7 linked regions of the Homo sapiens genome follow. Changing the gene in region 4 together with the main gene of any one other region gives a genetic interaction. Each region holds a gene or a part of one and is shown on either strand. Other genes may lie near its edges. The genes, in order: DUT, CTNNBL1, NUBP1, POLR3B, GET3, GPN3 and GEMIN2.

The links.
Region 1: changes in POLR3B (region 4) and DUT together harm fitness more than expected from each alone (negative genetic interaction), as found in Homo sapiens cells (one large-scale study listed by BioGRID).
Region 2: changes in POLR3B (region 4) and CTNNBL1 together harm fitness more than expected from each alone (negative genetic interaction), as found in Homo sapiens cells (one large-scale study listed by BioGRID).
Region 3: changes in POLR3B (region 4) and NUBP1 together harm fitness less than expected from each alone (positive genetic interaction), as found in Homo sapiens cells (one large-scale study listed by BioGRID).
Region 5: changes in POLR3B (region 4) and GET3 together harm fitness more than expected from each alone (negative genetic interaction), as found in Homo sapiens cells (one large-scale study listed by BioGRID).
Region 6: changes in POLR3B (region 4) and GPN3 together harm fitness more than expected from each alone (negative genetic interaction), as found in Homo sapiens cells (one large-scale study listed by BioGRID).
Region 7: changes in POLR3B (region 4) and GEMIN2 together harm fitness less than expected from each alone (positive genetic interaction), as found in Homo sapiens cells (one large-scale study listed by BioGRID).

Annotation. Positions count from the first base shown.
Region 1 is NC_000015.10:48,334,429-48,337,928, reverse strand, and holds part of DUT (deoxyuridine 5'-triphosphate nucleotidohydrolase, mitochondrial isoform 1 precursor), read right to left. Parts: coding exon 3,421-3,500; intron 1,884-3,420; coding exon 1,839-1,883; intron 1-1,838. UniProt on the Homo sapiens protein: Catalyzes the cleavage of 2'-deoxyuridine 5'-triphosphate (dUTP) into 2'-deoxyuridine 5'-monophosphate (dUMP) and inorganic pyrophosphate and through its action efficiently prevents uracil misincorporation into DNA and at the same time provides dUMP, the substrate for de novo thymidylate biosynthesis.
Region 2 is NC_000020.11:37,868,530-37,872,029, reverse strand, and holds part of CTNNBL1 (beta-catenin-like protein 1), read right to left. Parts: intron 106-3,500; coding exon 17-105; 3' UTR 1-16. UniProt on the Homo sapiens protein: Component of the PRP19-CDC5L complex that forms an integral part of the spliceosome and is required for activating pre-mRNA splicing.
Region 3 is NC_000016.10:10,757,342-10,760,841, forward strand, and holds part of NUBP1 (cytosolic Fe-S cluster assembly factor NUBP1), read left to right. Parts: exon of another isoform or gene 1-531; coding exon 532-686; exon of another isoform or gene 687-936; intron 937-3,500. UniProt on the Homo sapiens protein: Component of the cytosolic iron-sulfur (Fe/S) protein assembly (CIA) machinery. Required for maturation of extramitochondrial Fe-S proteins.
Region 4 is NC_000012.12:106,434,248-106,437,747, reverse strand, and holds part of POLR3B (DNA-directed RNA polymerase III subunit RPC2), read right to left. Parts: intron 692-3,500; coding exon 617-691; intron 68-616; coding exon 1-67. UniProt on the Homo sapiens protein: Catalytic core component of RNA polymerase III (Pol III), a DNA-dependent RNA polymerase which synthesizes small non-coding RNAs using the four ribonucleoside triphosphates as substrates.
Region 5 is NC_000019.10:12,743,997-12,747,496, reverse strand, and holds part of GET3 (ATPase GET3), read right to left. Parts: intron 2,121-3,500; coding exon 1,972-2,120; intron 1,889-1,971; coding exon 1,738-1,888; intron 301-1,737; coding exon 193-300; intron 103-192; coding exon 1-102.
Region 6 is NC_000012.12:110,461,758-110,465,257, reverse strand, and holds part of GPN3 (GPN-loop GTPase 3), read left to right. Parts: intron 1-43; coding exon 44-152; intron 153-3,500. UniProt on the Homo sapiens protein: Small GTPase required for proper localization of RNA polymerase II (RNAPII). May act at an RNAP assembly step prior to nuclear import.
Region 7 is NC_000014.9:39,131,323-39,134,397, forward strand, and holds part of GEMIN2 (gem-associated protein 2), read left to right. Parts: intron 1-635; coding exon 636-746; intron 747-2,338; coding exon 2,339-2,397; intron 2,398-3,075. UniProt on the Homo sapiens protein: The SMN complex catalyzes the assembly of small nuclear ribonucleoproteins (snRNPs), the building blocks of the spliceosome, and thereby plays an important role in the splicing of cellular pre-mRNAs.

The sequences.
Region 1 (3,500 bases), on a different chromosome or scaffold from region 4:
AAACTATCCACACCTACCAGATGTGAATTCTGAACAGAATCCTGAATGCTCAACTTTTCCCTTTGACCCTTATTTAGAGCCTGGGATTTCTAACAACATCTCTCTTCAGAAATAAAAACTGTTGCCAACTATGATAAACTTGTGCCTAAGGGAGATTGTTAAGATTCTCTGCATCCAAGAACACACCACAATGTGATTTTATGAATAACACCATACCAACCACTAGGCAAACTAACTTTCCATTCTTTTACATGAATTTTTTTCCAGAAAGTTGTTTTAAACAGAGCAAAAATTAGTAACAAAGTCGAATAAAAGAAAAAGTTTCCACATAAAAACAATCTGTGAAGTCCCTAAGGACAGAAATTATATCTCACAGAATCTAATATGTGCCAAGTACTATATTAGGTATTTCATACACATTATCATTTAATCCTCCTACCTCTAGAGGCAGGCACACTAATTTCCATTGTAAAATGAGGAAACAGGCTCAGAAAGGTTAAGTAATAACTAGTTAATGACAGAGCTGGGACCTACATCCAGTTGTTATTCCAAAGCTCCCGTTCCTTGAACAATCATTTGAAACTTCATTGAAAATATATACAATTATTTATATCCTTAAGTTACTGTCCCAAAATGACCACAGTTGACCTTGTAAAAGCATTTTTGAACATCGGGCATAACTTACAGAGCCCAAGGAATCCTCAACCCAAGAGTGGGCTGTCAATGTCCACCCTGCTATGTAAAACTCAGCTCCCCTTTAGTCCCTAAAGGGTGTACTTTTGGGGTCCTGTCTTGTCCCACAGCACCACCTGGTGACACTATGGAGAGACACCACACCCACCAAATGTTAGACTAAGGGGCAGGTCTAGGATAGCCAGGTTTCATTAAGTGCTTAGTTAGCCCTTGCAGTGGCACATAAAAGTGAGCTAATTCTGGACGTGTTTAGTTGGTGAGGGGGATGCAGCAGGGTAATCTCCACAATTAATTGCAGTGGAAAGAACAAGGAGGCTGGAATCACACAGAGACTCCAGTTTTTACCACATATCCATGTGGGCTCATTTCTAAGCCAGTTTTCCTGATCTGTTAACAAGCCTCCATAAAGCAGCTCTGTAAAAACGGGTGGAGGAGGAGATCTAGCACACCTACTTATGTGGGGGCCAAGGTATCTTGTTAAGTGAAAGATTCACTACTGATGGGATAAAGGGTCAGTATGTAAGGACCACATAAGTGGGGTCTGAATCCCAGTTGGAGCGGACCTGAAACAAGGAAACCACATCAGGAAAGTAGAAATTTCCTTACAATAAGAGGAGTAGCTCTGTATCAAGAGTAGTTAGCAGAGGACACTGAGGGTTCTTCATGAAAGGTACCACATGAGGTAGGGTTAACTTTGAGACAAACATGAGAAAGGCTTTATTATAAGGGAAACAGGTAACACAGAGGACTGTCTTAACAAATTTAGAGAAAAGTGTTTTCTCTCCTGACTTCAGGGAAAGATTTTCTTCTTAAATTTTGCTAAAGACAGATAGCTCTCTTATGAAGAAAATTCTTACAAGATAGACCTGTGTTTTCTAGAACTTTTGTTGCTTAAATAATTACTTAATTATTATATCATTAAATCTGTCATTATTAATTAGGTAATCATTATTTTAAAAATTAAGTTAGTAGTTAAACAAAATATAATTACTTAAAATAACCACAAAGCTTTTCCTCCTATTATAACAAGCTTTCCTCTAATCATTTTCTTTTCTTAAAAATAAAATCTGTCATTTGAATATTACCTTTTAAAGACAAAGTAAATACTTGCAAACATTTACAGAATAAAAAAGGAAATATATTACCTCCTACATCAATAAAGTGTTTTGCAGCCAAGCCTGACCGTGGAGCTAAAAAACAAAAAAGGAGACATTGGTTATTTTAAGGGGGAAGGGCTATATCAGAGATAACTGATGCAATTTAAGCATGTCATTCTCTTCACCTATAATATCTATATCTTCATCTTAACTTTAGCACATGGTTTTGAATTAAAGAATATATATTCATCATACTGCATTACCAAAGTTGGAAAGACTAGTTTAGAAAAATTCCACAAGGTTTTAATTCAAAACTAACTTAAACCACTCCCATGTGACTTCAGTCAGAATTTGTGGTGCTGCAGACAGGGGAGAAGGACTGCTAGAATGAGCTGAAAGGTGAGCAAGCGGGAACAACTGTAGGCTGCTCTTTCAAGAAGTTAAGCCTCAAAGGGGAAGAAAGAGAAGTATGGCCAGCAGGAACACACTACTGAGGAAGAAGACTTTGGTTTTAAGATGGGACACCACAACATGTACAATGCAGATGGGAAGGGAAAGGAAGAGGAAGGGAGAGGGAAACAAACCTAACCAAATAGTAGCAGACCATAGCCTACAACTTGGGACCCCACTATTCATGATTCAGATGCCAAAAGACATGCCTGTAGGAAACACATGAACCAGAGTAAGATAAATGGGCTAATATCAGTTAAGTAAAAATGCCAAAAACTAAGTCTCAATGATTCAATGCTAGTATACTTTTTAATCCTAAAAAATGAAAAAAATAAAAAGCTAAGGTTACACCTTATTATTGCAGACTCAAGCATCAGGCCTATAATTAATTATCCTAACTTCCAGCATTTTATTTTAGAATAATTTAAATCAGGCACTTTGTCAATAATGCTGCCTCTTTCTGTACTAACCTTTATTTCACTCCATCTCCTGCCCCTTCCCCTGAAAAAATTCTAAAAAATGGAGTCAATGATGCTCAAGAGATGAGATGAGAGCCCATCTTGTTATCTTTTAAGGGCTGAAGTACTGGCAGTTTCCTCACTCATGGCTAATAATATAGTGCCAGTCTAGCTCCTTTCCCTGGAGGAGGGCGTCACAGCTCCATTGCCTCCTTTATGTTTACTCTGAAGTTAGTCAAAAAGAACTTACGCTCTTGCAAAGAACTGTCTGGTAACAACTGATCCGCTCCAGAAAAATCAAACCTGTTGACGTGTACTCCATTTTGTCCTAGCTCCTCCCAGTGCCTCTACAACACTGAAGAGTATCCCTTACCCTAACCCCATGGCCAAACAAGAAAAGGTTAAGTAGGCTTACACATTCTGGGACCAACAGGTCAGAAGTTTTACTCTCATAATATAAAATGCCATGTTCTGAGAACAGCCTTCTAGGCCAGTGTGAGCCTAAAAGCTCCAGTGAGGAAGGAGAAAAATAAAAGGGTCAAAAAGAGGCAAAGCAGAGATGTAAATAAAGCCTTTCAAAGAGTGCATTTGCTATCACAAATGGTGCTTCTTTTAGGACACAGCCCAAGCAATATTGCCTGCTTATTACCCCAAATGAAACATGAAGAATCTATCACAAAGGAGAACTTGACAAATAGTTACCTGTTTCTTAAATGACTTACCCACTCTTCCATAACACCCAGAAGGGAGCGCTATCTGAATGTCCGTTTTCACAACAGCTTTCTCCATAGGTGGTATTGTG
Region 2 (3,500 bases), on a different chromosome or scaffold from region 4:
CAGGGCCAAGGTGCCTCTAGAAGTTCTCCAGCAAGCCCAGGATGCGCTTTTGCTCGTTCTCCCGGAACTCCGGGCTCCGGCCGTCCCCGATGTTCTCTGCATACTCTAGGGGGACAAAGATAGAGTCAGGAGTGGATCCCAGGCATGGCATCCACCGTGGCTGCGTCGCTTCATACCTTTCCCAGAACCCCAGCTCCCACAGAGGTGCAAGTCGCCCTAATGCCCCCACTGTAGCCAAATTCCTTGGGGTCTTGCCTTTGAGGCCTCAGTGGAAAGGTCCCAACTTACCTTTCCATGCTTGGATTCCCCTCCTAGCCACACCCTTCACTTCCGCCCTCATGTATTTATTCACTCAACACACATGGCGTGGATGCTACTAAGGTCTGAATGTTTGTGTCCCCTCCAAAACTCATGCTGAAACCTCATCCTCAACGCATCGAAGGCCTTTATGGGGTGATTAGGTTCTTACCATCTAATTATAAGATTAGATTAGGTCTAGATTAGGTCTAATCTAGGGGGATTAGACCCTTGCAAAAGGACTGCAGGGAACTCTCAAGACCCTTTGCCCTTCCCCCTTCTGCAATGTGAGGATGCAATAGGACGGCCCTCAGCAGACACCAAAGGTTGGGGCAGTGCTCTTGGACCCCCCGCCTCCAGAATTGTGAGGAAGTACATTTCTGTTCTTCATAAATTACCCAGTCTCAGGGATTTTGTTACAGCAGCACGAACAGACTAAGACAGACACCAGCTGGGCAGGCACTGCTCTGGGTGAGTGGTTCTGAGTGTGGACCCGAGCAGCAGCAGCAGCAGCAGCACTGCATGGAAACTTACTAGAAACACAAATTCTTGGGACCACCCTAGACCCACTTAACAGGAAACGGGTGGGGCCCAGTGATCTGGGATTTATTGAGTCTCCAGGTGATGCTGATGTATGCTCCAGTTTGAGAACCTTTTTTTGGGAATGGGAATAAAGCAGTGATAGAAACAGATGCAAATTTCTGCTTGTGTGGAGCCTACTTTCTAGTGAGGGTCACAAACCAAAAAGTGAACAAAATACACAGGTGGCTGTCAGCAGGGAGTATCTGCTTAAAGATCAGAAGGAGATGAGTGTGGAAAGGTCTAGGAGCGAGTGGCAGGGCAGCCAGGGCAGAGGATCTAAGGGGAGGCACTTCTTTGGTTTATCTGAGGGTCAGCGAAGAGGTCAGCGTGGCCACAGCCTGGAGCCACGGGAGGGGCCATACCCAGATGGTGTGGGTCTGTGCACCACGGTAAGGGCTGTGGCCTTTCTGTGCGGTGGGTCCTGAGCAGAAAGGAATGACGTGATTTGACTTTTGCCAGATCCCTCTCAATGCTGTGTGGGGGACACCATGGGGGAAGCAAAGGCAGGGAAAGGAGATGCGACGTGACAGTGGCCTGGATTGGGCAGGTAGCGGTGGAGGTGAGGCGACGTCTTCAGCTTCTTGATGTTTTCTGAGGGTGGCTCCAATAGGATTTACAGATAGACCGGAAATGGGGTGTGAGAAAGAGATATGGATGTTGCAATCACCAAGAAATATGACAAGAGCATTGGGGAGGCTGACAGTGAGCCCAGAATCCCCGCAAGGACTGGGGGCACAGGTGCTGGTGCCAACAACAGGGAGGGGCTGTCGGGGGGTGCAGTCCCCCGACACAAACTTCGACAGCTGGGTGTATTCGGGGAAGGGAGGGAGAGAGAATAGTCTAGAAGTACTGGAGCATGGAAGACCCCTCCTATGTCTCCAGTGGCAGGAGGGGTGTAGGAGCACCAGGTTTCAGTGAGACCAGGAAGAGAAAGGAAATATTCCTGAGGAGGGTGAGGCTCTGGGCACAGTTCTGGCAACAGATCAGCAGAGGATGCCATCAGAGAGTGTCATGGTGGGCAGGCTTGTGTTCTTGTCTCCCCTGTTGTCCCAGCACAGTGATCCTTAAGACGCCATTTCTTTTTTTTTAGTGTCCTCGTCCCCCAAAATAACATGGTCACCCTGTTTTTTTTTTTTTTTAGGAGATGGCGAGGGATGATTTGGTGACTCTGGACTTCCTGCGGTGGCTCCTAGAGCAAGTGTAGGGGATCTGGTGGGAGGGGAAGGGGGAGGATGGGGTGGTCCAACCCTTCACTGCCCTCTGACTGTCCCCTGCCCACAGCCAGAGAGGAAAAGGCAATCAAATCCTAGCTCTGACTCACAACTGTGCCCTTGGGTGGTCCCCTCTGAAAATGTTCAAATAACAAACGTCCAGGGAACATTAGTTCCCTCCCTCAGCCTCCTTTGCTCAGGCCAGTAATGGCACTGGGGAAGTCCCACACCTCCTCCGGGTCCCCTCCTGAGATGTCTTCTCTGTGAAAGCCTGCCTGGTCACCTCTCACTCCCACACCCGGCCCCAGGCCACTGCCTCCAGCACATGTGGGCCTGACTGCTAGACCATCCTCCACCCAGCCCCTCTCTCCCTAGACAGAGAGCTGCATGAAGGCAGGGGCTTTCGCCTTCCTCCCAGCTAAGCCTGGCCGAGGGCCCCCCAGCAGAGTGTCGTGCTGAAGGATCTCCTGCAGTGGGTGACTAGGATGGCTGCCTGCACTTCTGCCCCCTGGTCCCTTACTGGGGCCTGGCTTGAGAAAGAAAATGGAGAGAACTCTCTAGTAAGAGGCTTTTGCATAATAAAACACCTGCTGATCCAAACCAGACAAAGACTGGGGAGACAAAGCATGTGACCTCTCACCCCTCCCCTGTCAGCCCCACCCCTGCCAATGCTGGGGAAGTAATTTTGCTCCTGCTACCTCTTTATTTTGCCCCGTTCCTCTTTATTACTTTGGTCGTGTGCCAGAAAATGGGATGTGGGATTCAGGCATGTGCCAGCTGTGTGTCTACCCCCAGAAATCCTCTTCTGTTAGGCCCATCCATCACCTCCAACAGCAAGTGGTTGTGATGCCTCCTATTAAGGCCCCTTAGAGAGAGGGCCAGGGTGATGGAGACAGGAACTGAGCTTTGGCAGAAGGCTCTGGGGCTGTGTGTAAGTGGTATCTCTTACTCACATGTGAATGATATAGTTGCTGCCCCAGGAGAGAGAGAAATGACCATTATGGCATCTAATATCCCCGGAGGCATGGTCTGGAAGCAGGAGTCTTAATGGATTGAGCTAACACTTTGCTCTCCTAATGTCTTCTCAGACCCAGGAGAGAGGGAAGTGGAGAAACAGTCCGATGCTGTGGGGCAGTGATTTTCCAACAGTAAAGCCGGCTTCCCTGAGTTCTTTCTAGGGATGTACGAAGCAGAGGGAACCCACACCTGCATCAATCCCTTTGCCGAATCACCTGTGCCGAGGCCTCGCTTACATATGCCGACGGTACACAGAGCACCCATCCTATGCGCAAGTCTCCTGTGTCACTCCAACTGTGCTAAGAAGCAAACAGTCACATCACCCATTCTCTGGAAAGGGGATATCCGACTGGCCCACAGGCAGTGAATGGCTTAGTGTCCCCTGGAAGAGGG
Region 3 (3,500 bases), on a different chromosome or scaffold from region 4:
GGCTTATTTGGGTCAGAGAGGTGAGATCAACAGGAGGTTGATCTGGTACTGAGACTTAAGGTAATAATGTGAAAGTGTTATCAGGGCAAGCTTTAGCCTCAGCACTATTGATATTTTGAGCCAGATAAGTCTTTGTTGGGGGGAGGAGTAGACCGTGTTCTACACCATAGGGTGTTAAACAGTGTCCCTGGCCTTTACCCACAAGATGCCAGTAGCACCCCCTACTCTATTTGTGACAACCCAAAATGTCTCCAGACATTGCAATTCACTCCCAGTTGAGAGCCACTGACTTACAGCATAGACCAAAGGCACAAAAAGATCAGATCATGCTTCTCCGTGAGCTGGGCACAGTGGCACGCACTTATAGTCCTAGTTACTTGGGAGGCTGAGGTGGGAGGATTGCTTGAGCCTCAGAGTTAAGAGCCAACCTGGGCAACATAGCAAGACCCCATCCTTTAAAAAAAAAAGAGGGAGTTGAAAGTACAGAAAAGAAAGGAAAAGTAAGCATCCCCTGTGGATTCCTCTTTCTAGGCATGATCAAGCAGTTCCTCCGAGATGTGGACTGGGGAGAGGTCGACTACCTCATTGTGGACACCCCACCTGGGACGTCGGATGAACACCTCTCGGTCGTCCGGTACCTGGCCACAGCACACATCGATGGAGCAGTGATCATCACCACTCCCCAGGTGAGCGAGCTGCCAGCTGGAGCTGGGTCCAAACTGTGCTCCACACTGTGAGATTTCTTTCCTACCTGGCTCTGATACTCTGGTCTCACCAAGGCTCTTCCCAGTGTGTGTTCCGCAGCTGCATCTGATGTGGGTCTGCAGAAACCTCGTGTTAAAAACTTCAGCCAGCACAGTGATTCACACCTGTAATCCCAGGACTTTGGGAGGCTGAGATGGGAGGATCACTTGAGCCCACGAGTTCGGGACCAGCCTGAAAAACATAGCAAAACCCCATCTCTACAAAAAATATTTTAAAATTAGCCAGGCATGGTGGCTCGCGCCTGTAGTTCCAGCTACTTGGGAGGCTGAGGTAGGAGGATCATTTGAGCCTGGGGAAAGGAGGTTGCAGTGAGCCATGATCACGCCAGTGCAGTCCAGCCAGCGCAAGCGAGTGAGGCCTTGTCCCAAAAGATAAAAATAAGAAAAACTTCATCTTTGGTCTAGACATTTGCAGCTGACAACCATTCAACGATTTGGTTTTTTTTTAGTCCATGGATTAAACAATAGTGGGTCAAGAATGCTTTTTGAACTTTCCTTGAGGAAACTAGGGAAACCACCAGTGCAGTTATAATTCATACTGTGCTGCCTGGCCCCGTCAGCCTTGCCGTGTCCATGTGTCAGGTCCCCCAGCCTACAGTGGATTTTCCGTTTACATCCCAGGATGATTTAGGAAATCTCTCCAGTTTTCAACAGAACCAGCTGGGTGCAGATAGGGATTTCGGGATAAGCCACTGGGTGCCTTCGCTTCTTCCGTAGTGACACCCAGCAACCCTCTGTAGCAGTCACCTAGTGGCTGTACTCCAAGGCCCATGGTGAGCCCGAGCTGAGAGGAGAGCGATAGGAAGTTTCCTCTCTGTAAGTCCTGCAGAGAGCAACTGCAGGCAGGACCATGGTGCTATCCATCTCAGGGGCCTGAGAAACTGAGGGCTCTTCTCCATCTCCACAGTTACGCCTGACTTCTCTTCATGACGTTCTCCTCCACACTTAAGAAAGCCCAGCAAAGGAGGTTTGATTTGATCTCACTGGCCAGAATCAGTCAGGACGACCCATAGTCTCACCTCATCCAGCACTCACTGAGCTCTGACTCTGACATGCCGGGCACCAGGGCAGTAAAAAGGCCTGGCTCTCCCTGGTGGCCCCTGTGGCTCCCTGAGGAACACAGGTGCTGGACACAGGGATGAGGGTACAGCCAATGGAGTGGCAGGCCCAGCGGCCATGGGAAGGGTGTCCGGGTCAGAAAATGGTGCAAGATTCATGTCCACCCTGGCATCCTGCAGAGAGGGGACATGGGGACGCAAGGAGGAGCAGGACACCAGCTGGGACCCTGGACAGGAGGGAGGATGGCCTGGCCCGGGTGATGGCAGTGGAGAGAAAGTGTATTTGTCCTTAGGAATGTTTTCTGTCCCATTTTTAAAAAGTGGTTGGTGCTGGGCACACTGGCTCATGTCTGTAATCCCAGCACTTTGGGAGGCCGAGGCAGGCAGATTACTTGAGGTCAGGAGTTCGAGACCAGACTGGCCAATATGGCAAAACCCTGTCTCTACCAAAAAAATACAAAAATTAGCCAGGCGTGGTGGTGGGCACCTGTAATCCCAGCTACTTGGGAGGCTGAGGTGGGAGAAGTGCTTGAATCCAGGAGACAGAGGTTGCAGTGAGCCGAGATCGCGCCACTGCACTCCAGCCTGGGCGACAGAGCAAGACTCTGTCTCAAAAAAAGAAAGAAAGAAATGAGAGACTGAGTCGCAGCCCATTGACTTTCTAGCTGAGCGCCCCTTCCTCCGCATCCCAGCCTCAGTGTCAAGAGCCAAACAGGCATCTCAGGAAAAGAACAGGCCCAAAGCTGCGAGCCTTTCGGGCTCACGTGAGTGGTGAAGCTCCAGGTGCTAAGGAGTCACTACACCTGACAGTGACAAGCCACAGCAGGACTTGGGTACAGGGATCTGTGATAACATTAACTGAGGAAAATAGGGAGCTACTGAGCGGTGTTTATACACAGTAATCACATTGGAAAAACTCAGAGTTGAGAAGGAAATGCAAAGTTGTCCACATTGGGCAGTATTCCTTATTTCCTTTTAGTCAGTTGTTTGTGTTTATAATTATCTAGAGCAGGGATTGGCAAACTTTTCTGTAAAGGGCCAGATAGGAAGTAGGCGTTGCGGACCCCACGGTCCCTGTCCCAGCCCCTTAGCCGTGCCACTGTGGCATGAAGCAGCCACAGACGGTGCCTAGAGGGACGGGCATGGCTGGTTCCGGAGGAACTTTATTTATAAAACCAGCCAGATTCAGCCCCCAGGCTGGGGTTTGCCAAGCTCTGGTCTAGAAAACAGTGCACACACTGGCTTAATATAGTATAGTATAGGGACATGGAGCATGTAGATGCGTTAAAAGGTCATTTTCAGATAGGCACAGTGGCTCACGCCTCTAACCCTAACACTCTGGGAGGCCGAGGCAGGAGGATCACTTCACACCAGAAGCTTAAGACCAGTCTGGGCAACAACCATCTCTATAAAAAATTAAAAAGTTAGCCAGGCAGAGTAGCACATGCCTGTAGTCCCAGCTACTCTGGAGGCTGAGGCAGGAGGATTGCCTGAGCCCAGGAGGTCAAGGCTGCAGTGAGCAATGATTATGCCACTGCACTCCAGACTGGGCAGCAGTGAGATCCTGTCTCTAAAAAAAAAAGTCATTTTCTTTTAGGTTGATTTCTTGCTATTTGGCTGTGTGGGAAGTAAATAGCACCTCGAACAAACAGGGCTTAGCACTAGTAGGTACTAAATA
Region 4 (3,500 bases):
ACAATCATTTTCTTCATTCACATCTAAATATTCAACCAGACTCTCATGTAAGAAATCTTCAAAATTCCTGGGAAAATATTGGTGAAAGAGACATCATTAAAAAGCATTTTTCTGCAGTATTTTATATAATAACAGGAGATACTGGCTTTCGTTTAGGCCCAAAGCACCTTTCTCTCCCAGAGAATATCATTACATTGGGATACCTGAAACATGTTATTCTTAGCTCACACAGTAACCACAAACTGCTGAAATAAAAACAGCAAAGTGTCTGTCTGTAACTCTTGTGAACCTAGTCCCCACTTCTTAAAAAAAAAATTCTGACCTTAGAAACCTCATAATGAGACCCACAGTGTCTACACTGACACATGATGTAAGTCCTTTTCTTACCAGAAACACTTACTTGTGTACTAACTGACATCAAGACTAGGTAACCCTCATGATCTAAATTGATGAATATTTTACAATGTCCAAGCAAGTTCACATGGAGCAAAATAGGTTTTTAACAGGCTGGTAATTTGGTGGAAAGAAATTAAAACACTAAAATGAAAATACACTTTTCTTAAATCATGTATGTGGGTATTAAGGAGATTGGTAAGTTTTACTTTTGGCTACTTACCTGTACCCTTGGGCCAGCTCTTCCATATGTTTATTTGTGACTGCTGGCTTCTGTTTCTTGACAATTATGTAGGGTCTAGAATGGAAACAGCAAACCAAATTAATAATAGTTCCAGGGAAAAATTACACAGGCAAGTTAGTTTACCAAAGTGAGATGAGGGAAGATGTAAATACAAACAAACCTATTCCTGGATTGCTGAGGACACCAGGTAATTTTTGTATGGATGAGCATGGTGTAGGGGACTATGCTCTCTCTCACATACACACACATACATACCCAAGCCCATGTGTACATGTGAGTATGTGTGGACATATTCATGCACACACACAGTGCTTCCTGCAAGTATCTTAGGAAACATTTGGTTTTGAATGAAAAGGCAACACAAAAATGATACTCAAAGTCTGAAAAGGAAACAAAACCTTTAATGCCATATTTTAAAAAACGGTGTAATGTATCAATCTAAAAACTTCCCGATTTCACATTGGAAAATTTTGCATACTACTCATGGAGTTAACAGGCAAAGAAGCACTGTCACCTAGGGTAATAACGGCGTTGTGTTGTGAGGTTCTGATGAATATCCAGATGTTTAGAGTAGTTTGATTTAGTCTAAACATCACTGAGCTAGGTTAGCAAGATACTTAAAGCTACACATTACCAAAGAGAGTGGCTAAAAGTTGGCAGAGAATGAAGCTTTCTTACTTTGTGGTTTTCAGTGACGTAATGGGTGGAAGGTGGAGAAGGCATTCTGGCAGATTAACCTGTAACTGTCAGTGGGGACTTGCCTCGGAGGGCTTTGCCACCATGAGGAAACCCGGACACAAAGGATGGCATGCGGCACTGAAACGTCAAGGGCTGTTGCTATTTGGATAAGCAGCTCTTACAGAGAGGAGCAAGTAACCACCAGACACTTGTGCGCTCTACCCTAAAGTCCAAATAACTATTTGAGGACTAATGAGCACTTTTCAACAGTTAAGAAGAGGAGCTGCACAATTACAAAAGGGGAACACAAGTTGTTGAAAAATGAACTGGGTGAGCTTTTCATGGAAATCCACAGTACCTCGAAATTCTGGCTCCTTCTTGGTAGGGAAGCAGAGCCTACTAATGCCTCATTTGAGCGCTGCAGTGGATTCAGGTTAAGCCTCAGATGAGAAGACAGAAACCGGCGGAGGAGAGGGAGGGGATCACATTTAGCTGCCTCAGTTATCCTTACGTTACTCAACGCATTCTACTATTTTTTCCTGCTAGATCTGTTATGCCATTATAAAGTTGCTTCTATAAAAGAGTTTTATTTTTGAATATATATTATGTTGGATGTAATGAAATCCTAAAAAAGAGTAACCTAGAAAATGTCACTGTTATTCCTGCCCTTAACTGGACCATGCTATTAAGTTATAAATAAGCACCTAATGTGTGCCTGGCACCCTACTGAGCACTTACCACACCTTCTATCAACTAGTTCTCAGGACAATCTTAGGCAGGCATTATTGTTTCCATTTTACAGCCAAGGAAACCAAGGCTGAGAGACTGAAGTAGTATACTCAGAGTCACACAACTCAGTAAGTGGGAAGTTAGGATTCAAACACAGGTATATCATCAGCTAACCATTCTTCGGTTGCAAAGAAGAGAAACCAATTCTGGCTAATTTAAGCAAAAATGAAGTTTACTGGAAGCATTAAGAATTTACAGGTGCTGGGTGCGATGGCTCACACCTGTAATCCCAGCACTTTGGGAGGCTGAGGTGGGTGGATCACTTGAGGCCAGGAGTTCGAGACCAGCCTGGCCAACACAGTGAAACCCCATCACTACTAATAATACAAAAAATTAGCCAGGGGCAGTGGTGTGTGCCTGTAATCCCAGCTACTGGGTCAGGGACGGGGGTGGGGAGCTGAGACATGAGAATCGCTTGAACCTGGGAGGCGGAGGCTGCAGTGACTCAAGATCGTACCACTGCACTGCAGCCTGGGTGACAAAGTGAGACTCTGTCTCAAAAAAAAAAAAATAATTTAATGGAAGGATAAGAATCAAAGAAAAAGGTGAAATGCTCAGCCTCAGAAAGAAAAGGAACGAGAGCAGTTCCAAGAATCCAGAAAATGAGGTTTAACAGGCAGTCTCTTGCATGTAGCACTGGGAGAATGAATCAAGTCCAACCACCTCCCTCCCTTGATTTATTTTACCTGGGATTCAAATTCTCTGATGAGGGGGTCTGACTGACCTCATTTGGGTCATATGCCCAACCCCTGGCTGAAGAGAAGAGGGTGCTGGACTGACCATCCCAAGAAGCCTGCCAATGGGGACAGGCAGTCCTCAAAAGAAAATGAGGTAGTGTCATATGAAGGAGGAAAGGATGCTGGAGGAAAGAAAGCATGCAGTCACTCTCCCAGCTCTGACAGACTTCCAGCTACTGCTGGCTCACTGCCTTGTGCTTCAACACTACCCGAGGTATACACAGAATAACTACGGTAATGCTAGAAAAGGCTTGTGACACAAGGCAATGTCCTCAGCTGATGTCTCTGCATAGCCCCTCAAACCAGACACCATGTCACATTCGTCTCTGTACCTCCGGCTCCTAGATAGTACCTGTGCACAATAGGCCCTTAATAAATACTTACTGAATGAATAAAAGGAACCTACTTTTCCATTGGATCTAGTGTTATTTTATTTCTTCATGCCTCCATGTTTTCATTCTTGCCTTTTTTCAGCCTTTCTCCTCCCCACCTACCTCCAAGTTAACACAATCCTACTCCTCCTTTAAAGCTCAGTTTGTAGCAACAGACTATAGTGGGCAAAATCATGCGTCAAACGAATCCTAAGGACTTTCAAATAAAAAACAGATTCCACCACTCTTTAGCTTTCAGTAAGTTACTTAGCCTCACTGAACCTCAGT
Region 5 (3,500 bases), on a different chromosome or scaffold from region 4:
GTGTGTGTCAATCTTGCACTTGGCCAGCTCCTGGATCAGCCTCTCTGTCTCATACAGGGACAGGAACTCAGCAATGCATACGCAGATGAAAGTTGTCTGCTCCTACAGGGCACGAGAGAGGACAGTGAGGGGCGGGGTCTGCCCCTGTCCTCAGCCCCCGGGCCTCTCACCGCCAGCCAGACCACCACTCACAGGGTCCTTGAACTGTTCGCTGACTGAGCGGATGACGGGCAGCGTCTCCTCCAGCTTGGAGGCCAGCTGGTCTGCGTTCATGTCCCCCAGGCCCAGCATGTTGCACATCTGCAGGGGGGATGTGGGAGGGCTCATAGCTTACCTGCGGCGACCTCCTGGGTTGGGGGTTCACTAAACACCCGAGGGATGACTCCTGATACCTCCCAGTGGTTAAAGGCTCAGGCCCATAAGCAGATTCCTGGGGTTGGTCAAATACTAGCTTTTCCATTTCTTTCTTTCTTTTTTTTTTTTTTTTGAAATGGAGTCTCACTCTGTTGCCCAGGCTGGAGTACAATGGCGTGATTTTGGCTCACTGCAACCGCCGCCTCCTGGGTTCAAGCGATTCTCCTGCCTCAGCCTCTTGAGTAGCTGGGATTACAGGCGCGCACCACCATGCCCGGCTAATTTTTGTATTTTTAGTACTGGTGGGGTTTCACCATTTTGGCCAGGCTGGTCTTGAACTCCTGACCTCAGGCAATCCACCTGCCTCGGCCTTGCGAAGTCCTAGGATTACAGGCATGAGCCACTGCGGCCGGCCTCAGCTTTGCCATTTTTAGGGAACCATAGCTAAGGGGCTTGACCCTCCTGGAGCCTCAGTTTCCCCATCTCTAAACTTTACCTCCCAGATCTGTTGTACCAGATGAGCTGAAGCATATAATGTGCTGAGAATAGTGTCTGGCACACAGTAAGTGCTCAGTGTTACCACCTGAGGCACAGGTCCCCACAGGGGACACGCACACACCCACACGTGCACATACACCATGGTGGGTGGTGCTGGTGGTGTGCAGCACTGTGGGGGCTTTAGGGTTGTCATCGTAATAATAACCCATGGGGGCTGGGCACAGTGGCTCATGCCTGTAATCCCAGCACTCTGGGAGGTCGAAGTGGGTGTACTGCTTGAGGCCAGGAGTTCAAGACCAGCCTGGGCAACATGGCAAAACCCTATCTCTACAAAAAGTACAAAAATTAGCTGGGCATGGTGGTACATGTCTGTAGTCCCAGCTACTTGGGAGGTAGAGGCACGAGAATCACTTGAACCCACGAGGTGGAGGTTGCAATGAGCCAAGATCGCACCACTGCACTCCAGCCTGGGTGACAGAGCGAGACTCCGTCTCGAATAATAATAATAATAACCCATGGGGCACTCTCATGATCTCCATTTGCAAGACAAGGAAGGTGAGGCCCAGAGAGGTGAAGTGATTTGCTTGAGGTCACACAGCAGTTGGGTCACATGGTGAGTGTAGAGGGTTTGAAGGCAGGTTGCCTGGTTCTGGAATGTGCTTTCTGGCTCTGTCTAGGGTATTTAGCGGGCAGGGGCAGGGACACTGAGTCCTGCCTGTGGGGGAGGAAAGACAGCTCCGTCCCATCCCCTCCAGGGAGAAGTCCAGAGTGAGAAGGGGTGGGAAGGAAAGGGAATTGTTAGTGCGCATTTGAGGGTCTGGGGGCCCGGGCCTACTCCCACTCCCGGCTGCCTGGATGGTGCAGGTGGGGGCCCCCGCCGCCTGCCTGTGAGATGAAAGGGCTGATCTGGTTCTTGATCTGCATAAGCCGGCCCAGGCCCCGCTCCACGATGGTGGGGAAGTTGAGCAGCCTCAGGGTGTGGCCCGTGGGTGCCGTGTCAAATACCACCACCGAGAAGTTCATGCCCTTCACCAGCCTGAGGGGAGACAGGGGTCAGGCCCTCTGTGTCCGCTCTTCCCCTTCCCCAGGCAGCCCCCACCCCTGCTGGCTGGGCCTGACCTCATGACCTCGGCATAGCTCATGGCCTCATCGATGCCGGGAAATGCGCTCATGGCCTCCTGCATCATCTTCTTGCCCATGCTCAGCATGTTGTCCTCCTCGAAGAACTCGTCAGGCAGCTCCGCCACGCCCAGGCTGGGGTCAATCTCCTGGGGGCCAAAGGGATGAGACTGAGGTTGCTGCTACTGCTGGGGGAGCCTTCCCACCTGGGCACAGGGCCAGGGGGAGCCTTCCTACCCGGGCACAGGGCCAGAGGGAGCCTGTGGTGGGCTGTGACCACAGGCATTTCATTAGGTCACGGCTGGGGGGACCCTGAGGTAGTACTTAGGGTTTTGTATGGTTGCATAAAGGGTCAAAAACAAGGGGAAAATTGCAAGCTGTGCCCAGGGCCCTCAAAGGGAAGCTGAAACCCACTGCGGGCCATTTACACTGCTACTCCCCACTTGCAACCTGCCACTTGCAACCCCAGATACTCCCATGACTGGGCCATGACCTCTTCCGGATCATCATCCCTCCACTGAGAGACTCCCTGACCACCCTAAGTAACAGCACAGATCCACCGACACCCCTGCCCTGCCTTCCTTTCTCCTTAAGGTTTAGCCCTTAGGAGCTGGGCAGGATAGCTCACGCCTGTAGTCCCAGGTACTCAGGAGAATGAGATGGGAGGATCGCTTGAGCCCAGGAGTTGGACACCAGCCTGGGCAATATAGCAAGACCTATCTGAAAAAAAAATTAGCCCTTCCTCACATCCCTCATGATTCCCTTATCATGTTTATCATCTGTCTCCATAGCAGGAATGTCTGCCCCTCAGGGGCAGGGGTTTTACCATCTAGTTCACTGCTGTGTCCTTAGCGCTTAGCATGAACAGTGCCTGGCACAGAGGTCGTCAGCACATATGGGGAATCCAGCCAGGCGCGGTACCTCATGCCTGTAATTCCAGCCCTTTGGGAAGCGGAGGCGGGCAGATCACCTGAGGTCGGGAGCTTGAGGCCAGCCTGGCCAACATGGTGAAACCCCGTCTCTACTAAAAATACAAAAATTAGCCATGCATAGTGGCGGGTGCCTATAATCCCAGCTACTCTGGAGGTTGAGGCAGGGGAATCGCTTGAACCCGGGAGGCAGAGGTTACAGTGAGCCGAGATCACGCCATTACACTCCAGCCTGGGTGACAGAGGGAGACTCTGTCTCAAAAAACAAACAACAAAACAAAACACAAACATGTATGTAGAATCTATGAAGGGATGGCCATGGCTGGGGTCCCTGGCCAGTCTCAGACTCAATGCCTCCCTCTTTTTTTTTTTTTTTTCCCGAGATGGAGTTTTGATCTTGTTGCCTAGGCTGGAGTGCAGTGGCGCGATCTCAGCTCATCACAACCTCCACCTTCTGGGTTCAAGCAATTCTCCTGCCTCAGCCTCCCGAGTAGCTGAGACTATAGGCATGCCCCACCATGCCTGGCTAATTTTTTTTTTTTTTTTTTTTTTTGAGATGGAGTCTTGGCCGGGCGTGGTGGCTCACGCCTGTAATCCCAG
Region 6 (3,500 bases), 4.0 Mb from region 4:
CACTACCTGTTGCTTTAACCTCTCATGCCTTGTGACATTACAGAGCACCTACTGTGCCACCATGGTCCAGCACTGTGAAGCCCTCAACCGGTCTGTCCAAGTTGTAAACCTGGATCCAGCAGCAGAACACTTCAACTACTCCGTGATGGCTGGTAAGTCCTGAGCAAAGGCTCCCCCCACCTTCAGGAACAGTAAGGGCTGGGGAGGCAGTGAGTACTAGCTGCTTAGCACTGATACTTATTATAGTCTGGATCCCTGGTGTTATGGTAAATAGCATGAGCTTGTCATTTGGTCACATCTGTTCATGGTGATATGTGTGACAGTATCCTTTCTTGGTCTTTGATGTAAGATTTAAAAGTAAATGGGGCCGGGCGCGGAGGCTCATGCCTGTAATTCCAGCACTTTGGGAGGCCGAGGCGGGTGGATCACGAGGTCAGGAATTTGAGACCAGCCTGACCAACATGGTGAAACCCTGTCTCTACTAAAAACACAAAAAAATCAGCTGGGTGTGGTGGCATGTGACTGTAATCCCAGCTACTCAGGAGGCTGAGAAAGGAGAATCGCTTGAACCCAGGAGACAGAGGTTGCAGTGAGCCGAGATTGCGCCACTGCACTCCAGCCTGGGCAACAGAGCGAGACTCCATCTCAAAAAAAAAAAAAAAAAAAGTAAATGGACACTTCCCTCAGCACCCTTTCATTCTGTCCCTTTTGTCCTTAGTCCTGCTGTAGTGAATCATGTGGTATATTGCTGATCACTATAAGTCAGGAGCCTGGGTTTGTTTTTTTTAATTCTTTCAATTTGTTCATTCAAGTGTCTGTTGAACACCTGTTTTACGCCAGACACCGGAGTTATAGCAGAGAATAATACAGACATTATCCCTGCCCACACCAACCCTTTAGGAAATAGGCAATAAACAACATGATGAACATGTTACAGAATGTGATGACTGCAGACAGGCTCATGAGAAGTACTCATTGAGGTTGCTTTAGCTAGAATTGTCAGGGAGAATGGTGACTCTGAGGAGGGGATCTTTGAGCCTAGACCTGAAGGATGGTAATATGCTCCTCAGGCTGAGGAAAGTCCTTCCAAAATGAGGGAACATTTAGATCAATAAATATGCCAAGCTGGGTGCAGGGACATGTGCCTGTAGTCCCAGCTACTTGGGAGGCTGATGTGGGAGGATCACTTGAGCCCAGGAGTTCAAGTCCAGCCTGGGCAACATTGCAAGATCCATCTCTGAAAAATAAAATAAATAAATAAATAGCCTGGAGGTGAGAAAGGATTTGGTATTCTCCAGGAAAGCTAAGATGTCAGTGAGCTAAAGCGTAATGTCTGAAAGAAAGAAGTGGGTAGGGGCTAACAGGACATGATAAGATGGGATTTTATCCTGTTGTCAGTGGGGTGCCACTAGAGGGTTTTAAGAAGAGGAAAGGATTGACATTTGATACACGTTTTGGGGTTTTTTTTTTTTTTTGAGACAGGGTCCAGCTCTGTCGCCCAGGCTGGAGTGCAGTGACACAACCTCTGCCTCCTGAGCTCAAGCCATCCTCCCATCTCAGCCTCCCAAGTAGCTGGGACTACAGATGCGTGCCACCATGCCTGGCTAATTTTTATACTTTTTTTTTTTTTTTTTTTTTTTTTTTTTTTTTTGTAGAGACAGGGTTTCACCATGCTGCCCAGGCTGGTCTCAAACTCCTGAGCTCAAGCAATCTGCTGGCCTCAGTCTCCCAAAGTGTTGGGATTAGAGGCGTGAGCCACTGCATCCGGCCTTTTTTTGTTTTTGTTGTTGTTGTCGTTTTGTTTTTGAGACAAGGTCTCACTCTGTCACCCAGGCTATATAGTATAGTAGCCTGATCACAGCTCATTGCAGTCTCAACCTCCTGGACTCAAGCAATCCTCCTACCTCCCAAGTAGCTGGGACTACAGGCACACACTATCATGCCTGGGTAATTTTTGTATTTTTTGTAGAGGCGGGGTTTCTCCATGTTGCCCAGGCTGGTCTCATTGCCCAGGCTGGTCTCGATTTCCAGGCTGGTCTCAAACTCCTGGGCTCAAGTGACTCACCCAGCTTGACTTCCGAAAGTGCTGGGATAATAGGCATGAGCCACCGCACTTGGCCTGATTTATGTTTTAAAAAATAACTCAGGTGCTCAGATGAAAAATGGACTCTAGTGGGTTGAGAGTAGAAGTACAACCTGCATGGCTGGGCATGGTGGCTCACGCCTGTAATCCCAGCACTTTGGGAGGCCGAGGCAGGCGGATCACAAGGTCAGGAGATCAAGACCATCTTGGCTAACACAGTGAAACCCCGTCTCTACTAAAAATACAAAAAACTAGCCGGGCATGGTGGCGGGCGCCTGTGGTCCCAGCTACTGGGGAGGCTGAGGCAGGAGAATGGCGTGCACCCGGGAGGCGGAGCTTGCGGTGAGCCGAGATCGCGCCACTGAACTCCAGCCTGGGCAACAGAGCGAGACTCCGTCTCAAAAAAAAAAAAATACAAAATTAGCTGGGTGTGGTGACACATGCCTGTAATCCCAGCTACTCTGGAGGCTGAGACAGGGGAATCGCTTGAACCCGGGAGGCAGAGGTTCTGGTGAGCCGAGATCGTACCATTGCACTCCAGCCTGGGCAACAAGAGCAAAACTCCATTTTAAAATTAAAAAAAGAAGTACAACCTGCACTGCCGCTGTTGTAGTTAGCCAGGTGTACACCAGGACTAGGGTGGTCACGGTGGAGATGTAAGGAAGCAGACAGATTCAATATATTTTGCAAGTTGAATTAACAGCATTTTGTGGGGGATTGAACCAAGAAGGCATAGCAAAGTAAGGAATCAAGGGTGAGGTCTTACAGCTTTGTTCAGTGTATGATATAATTTCCTGTGGAGGGAGACAGGTCGTTTTAGGTTTGGGGACGTTCTCTTTGCACTCACTAAGTGCAAAGGGAAACTTCTGATTTCTGTTAATGAGTGAGCAGGTTGCGGGGAGGCAGATTGAAGGGAGAGGAGGAGATGTGAAATGCTTTTCTTTGAGAAAAAAGGCATTGTATTACTTTGGAACCATTTGGCTGCAGCAAACAGAAACCACTCTAAGCTAGCTTAGTTAAAAAGAGGACTTAGGATGGGCGCTATGACTGACACCTGTAATCCCAGTACTTTGGGAGGCCAAAGCAGATGGATGGCCTGAACCCAGGAGTTCAAGACCAGCCTGGGAAGCATGGTGAAACCCCATCTCTACAAGTCAATACAAAGATTAGCCTGGCATGCTGGCGGGTGCCTTTATTCCCAGCCACTCAGGAGGCTGAGGTGGGAGGATCACTTGAGCCTACGAGGTCAAGGTTGCAGTGAGCCATGATTATGCCACTGCACTCCAGCCTGGGCAGCAGAGTGAGACCCTGTCTAAAAAGAAAGAAAGCCAGATTGATTGTCCCAATTTGGATCAGTTATCTGTTATTGATTGCTGAGGGAGGGGGTAGGAAGGTGTTGTCAGTATAAATGTGACTG
Region 7 (3,075 bases), on a different chromosome or scaffold from region 4:
AATAGGAAAAACAAGAACATTTTTAAAGTGAATCAAAGTTTGATCTGGAATGTTGGGACTGCAGGTTTTTTCTTGTGCTTGTGGTATTCTTCACAGTTTTTCTGCATCAAATATGTATTCATTTTGTAGCTGAAAACCCCATTTTAAAAGGGAGTGGGGATACATTGAGCCTGTCAAAGTATTTATAAAAGTGTCAAAAGATTATTTCATCTGTAGTATAGTTTCTTTGTATGTCCCCAGAGGACAAAATTATACAATTATAAAATGATTTCTATATCTGTCCATACAGAACAAAGAAAAAAATGTATCTTAATTTTTTCCAGTATTTATATTCATCTTAATGTAGTGTTCTGCTTACAAATGAGAACTTCCTATCATAAGAATATCTGAAACAAACTCTTTGGAGATCAGGGAATATTTTGAGGTATCCAATGTCCTGTGTCTGTAATTATAGGATACAAGAGATAACACCTGGCTCTCCAAATGAGGCTTTCTTGTCTATACCCAAACATAATATAGTTAAATGTTCTATGAATTTATTCATAGCAGATAATCAGGCATAACATTGGACATTTAAAAAATAAACTTCTGGTTCAGTATTTGTCTAAATATTAATTTTTTGAATTTTTTTTTAGGGAAGATGGCTTTATGCTTTATTGGCTTGTCTTGAAAAGCCTTTGTTACCTGAGGCTCATTCACTGATTCGGCAGCTTGCAAGAAGGTGCTCTGAAGTGAGGCTCTTAGTGGTAAGTTGCAACTTACTGTTTAAAATTAAAAGCACCCACCAATTTATATGGTGGTAAAGAAGGAGTTCAGTGAAATAGGAAAACACATGGAATATTTTATTGGTGGCAATTAGATTTGTAAAGCCCAAAATAATAGTAGCTTAAATAATATGGAAATGTTTTCTGAGATAAAGAAGTCTGAGCCGGGCGTGGTGGCTCACACCTATAATCCCAGCACTTTGGGAGGCTGAGGCGGGTGGCTCACCTGAGGTCAGGAGTTTGAGACCAACCTGGCCCACATGGTGAAACCCCGTCTCTACTAAAAATACAAAATTTAGCTGGGTGTGGTGGTGGGTGCTTGTCATCCCAGCTACTCAGGAGGCTGAGGCAGGAGAATCGTTCGAACCCAGGAGGCGGAGGTTGCAGTGAGCTGAGATTGCACCACTGCACTCCTGCCTGGGCAACAGAGCAAGACTCTGTCTCAAAAAAGAAGTAGGTAAAAAAATTAGATTTTTACTAAGATGGCAGTAACCCACCCACACCTTTGAGTTTTGTCATATGTGGCTTTCATCCTCATGCTCATCTTATGATCCAAGATGGCTGCTGTAGCTTCAGCCTTTTTTTTTTTTTTTTTTTTTTCTTTTATTGTGAGATGGAGTCTCGCTCTGTCACCGAGGCTGGAGTGCAATGGTGCGGTCTCGGCTCACTGCAACCTCCGCTTCCCAGGTTCAAGCAATTCTCCTGCCTTAGCCTCCAGAGTAGCTGAGATTACAGGTGCCCGCCACCATGCCTGGCTAATTTTTGTATTTTTAGTAGAGACAGGGTTTCACCATGTTGGCCAGACTGGTCTCAAACTGCTGACTTCAAGTGATCCACCTGCCTCAGCCTCCCAAAGTGCTGGGATTACAGGCATGAGCTACTGCACCTGGTGTGTGTGTGTGTGTGTGTGTGTGTATATATATGTGTGTGTGTGTGTGTGTATATATATATATCTTTATATATATATCTTTATATAATTCAGTAATGAATATATATAAGAACAGTAAGAATCCTGTGTCTTGACTGTACAGTGATTAATATATATTATATATATTCATATATATTCTATATATATCCTCACATATATTGTATGCATTATATAGAGGAACAATAAGAATCCTGTGTCTTGACTACAGTGATAAATATATTTATTCATATATGTATATTAATATATATTTATTATATATGAATACATATTCACTACAGTTAAGACACATATATAATATATATGAATATATATATATATATTCATCACTGTACAGTTAAGACACAGGATTCTTATTGTTCCTTTAGTAGGAACCAGGGAAAAATTTCCCCCAAGTTATCCCCCTTAGATCCCTCTTTATTTTTTTTTCCCTATTCAGAATCTTTATTTAAAAGATAGTCTTAGATGTTTCTCAAGGAATCATTAACTCTACAGTTCTCTGCTTTTTCTTTGAGGGCTCCTATTTCCACATGATGATTACTGTCATATAATAAAGTTTTCATGTTTCGTGTTTTACATCTTAATAGAAAATTTATTTCAAAAGTAATAGGAACAGACAATATTTAAATTTTTCTTTTTTTTTTTTTAGGATAGCAAAGATGATGAGAGGGTTCCTGCTTTGAATTTATTAATCTGCTTGGTTAGCAGGTATAGTTAATCCTTGGCTTCTTTATTATTTATCAGTGAGGTCAGTGAGGTTAGATCGTATTTATTACATTTGGTTTTTGTTTGGTTGGTTTTTTTTTGAGTCTCACTCTGTTGCTATAGTTAGGGTGCAGTGGCGCAATCACAGCTCACTAGAGCTTTAACTTCCTGGGCTCCAGCAATCCTCCCACCTCAGCCTCCTGAGTAGCTAGGACCACAACCAAGCACCACCACACCTGGCTAATTAAAAAAAATTGTTCGTAGAGACAGGGTCTCACTATGTTGCCCAGGCTGGTCTCAAAACTCCTGGGCTCAAGCGATCCTCCCACCTAAGCCTCCGAAAGTGCAGGGATTACAGGTGTAAAGCCACTGCATTCAGCCTGCATTTTTGTTTAATTGCCTGTGTCCTGCGTTCATTTTCAGTTGTGGCATATTTTTATTTAGTATCTGTTTTATTTCATTTCTTACATAGAAATTCTTCTTGGAATTTATTTGAAAACTTTTTTTGTTGTTTTGTTTTGAGACAGAGTCTCGCTCTGTTGCCCAGGCTGGAGTGCAATGGCACCATCTCGGCTCACTACAACCTTCACCTCCTGGGTTCAAGCAATTCTCCCCCCTCAGCCTCCCAAGTAGCTGGGCTTACAGGCACCTGCCATCATGCCCGGCTAATTTTTGTAATTT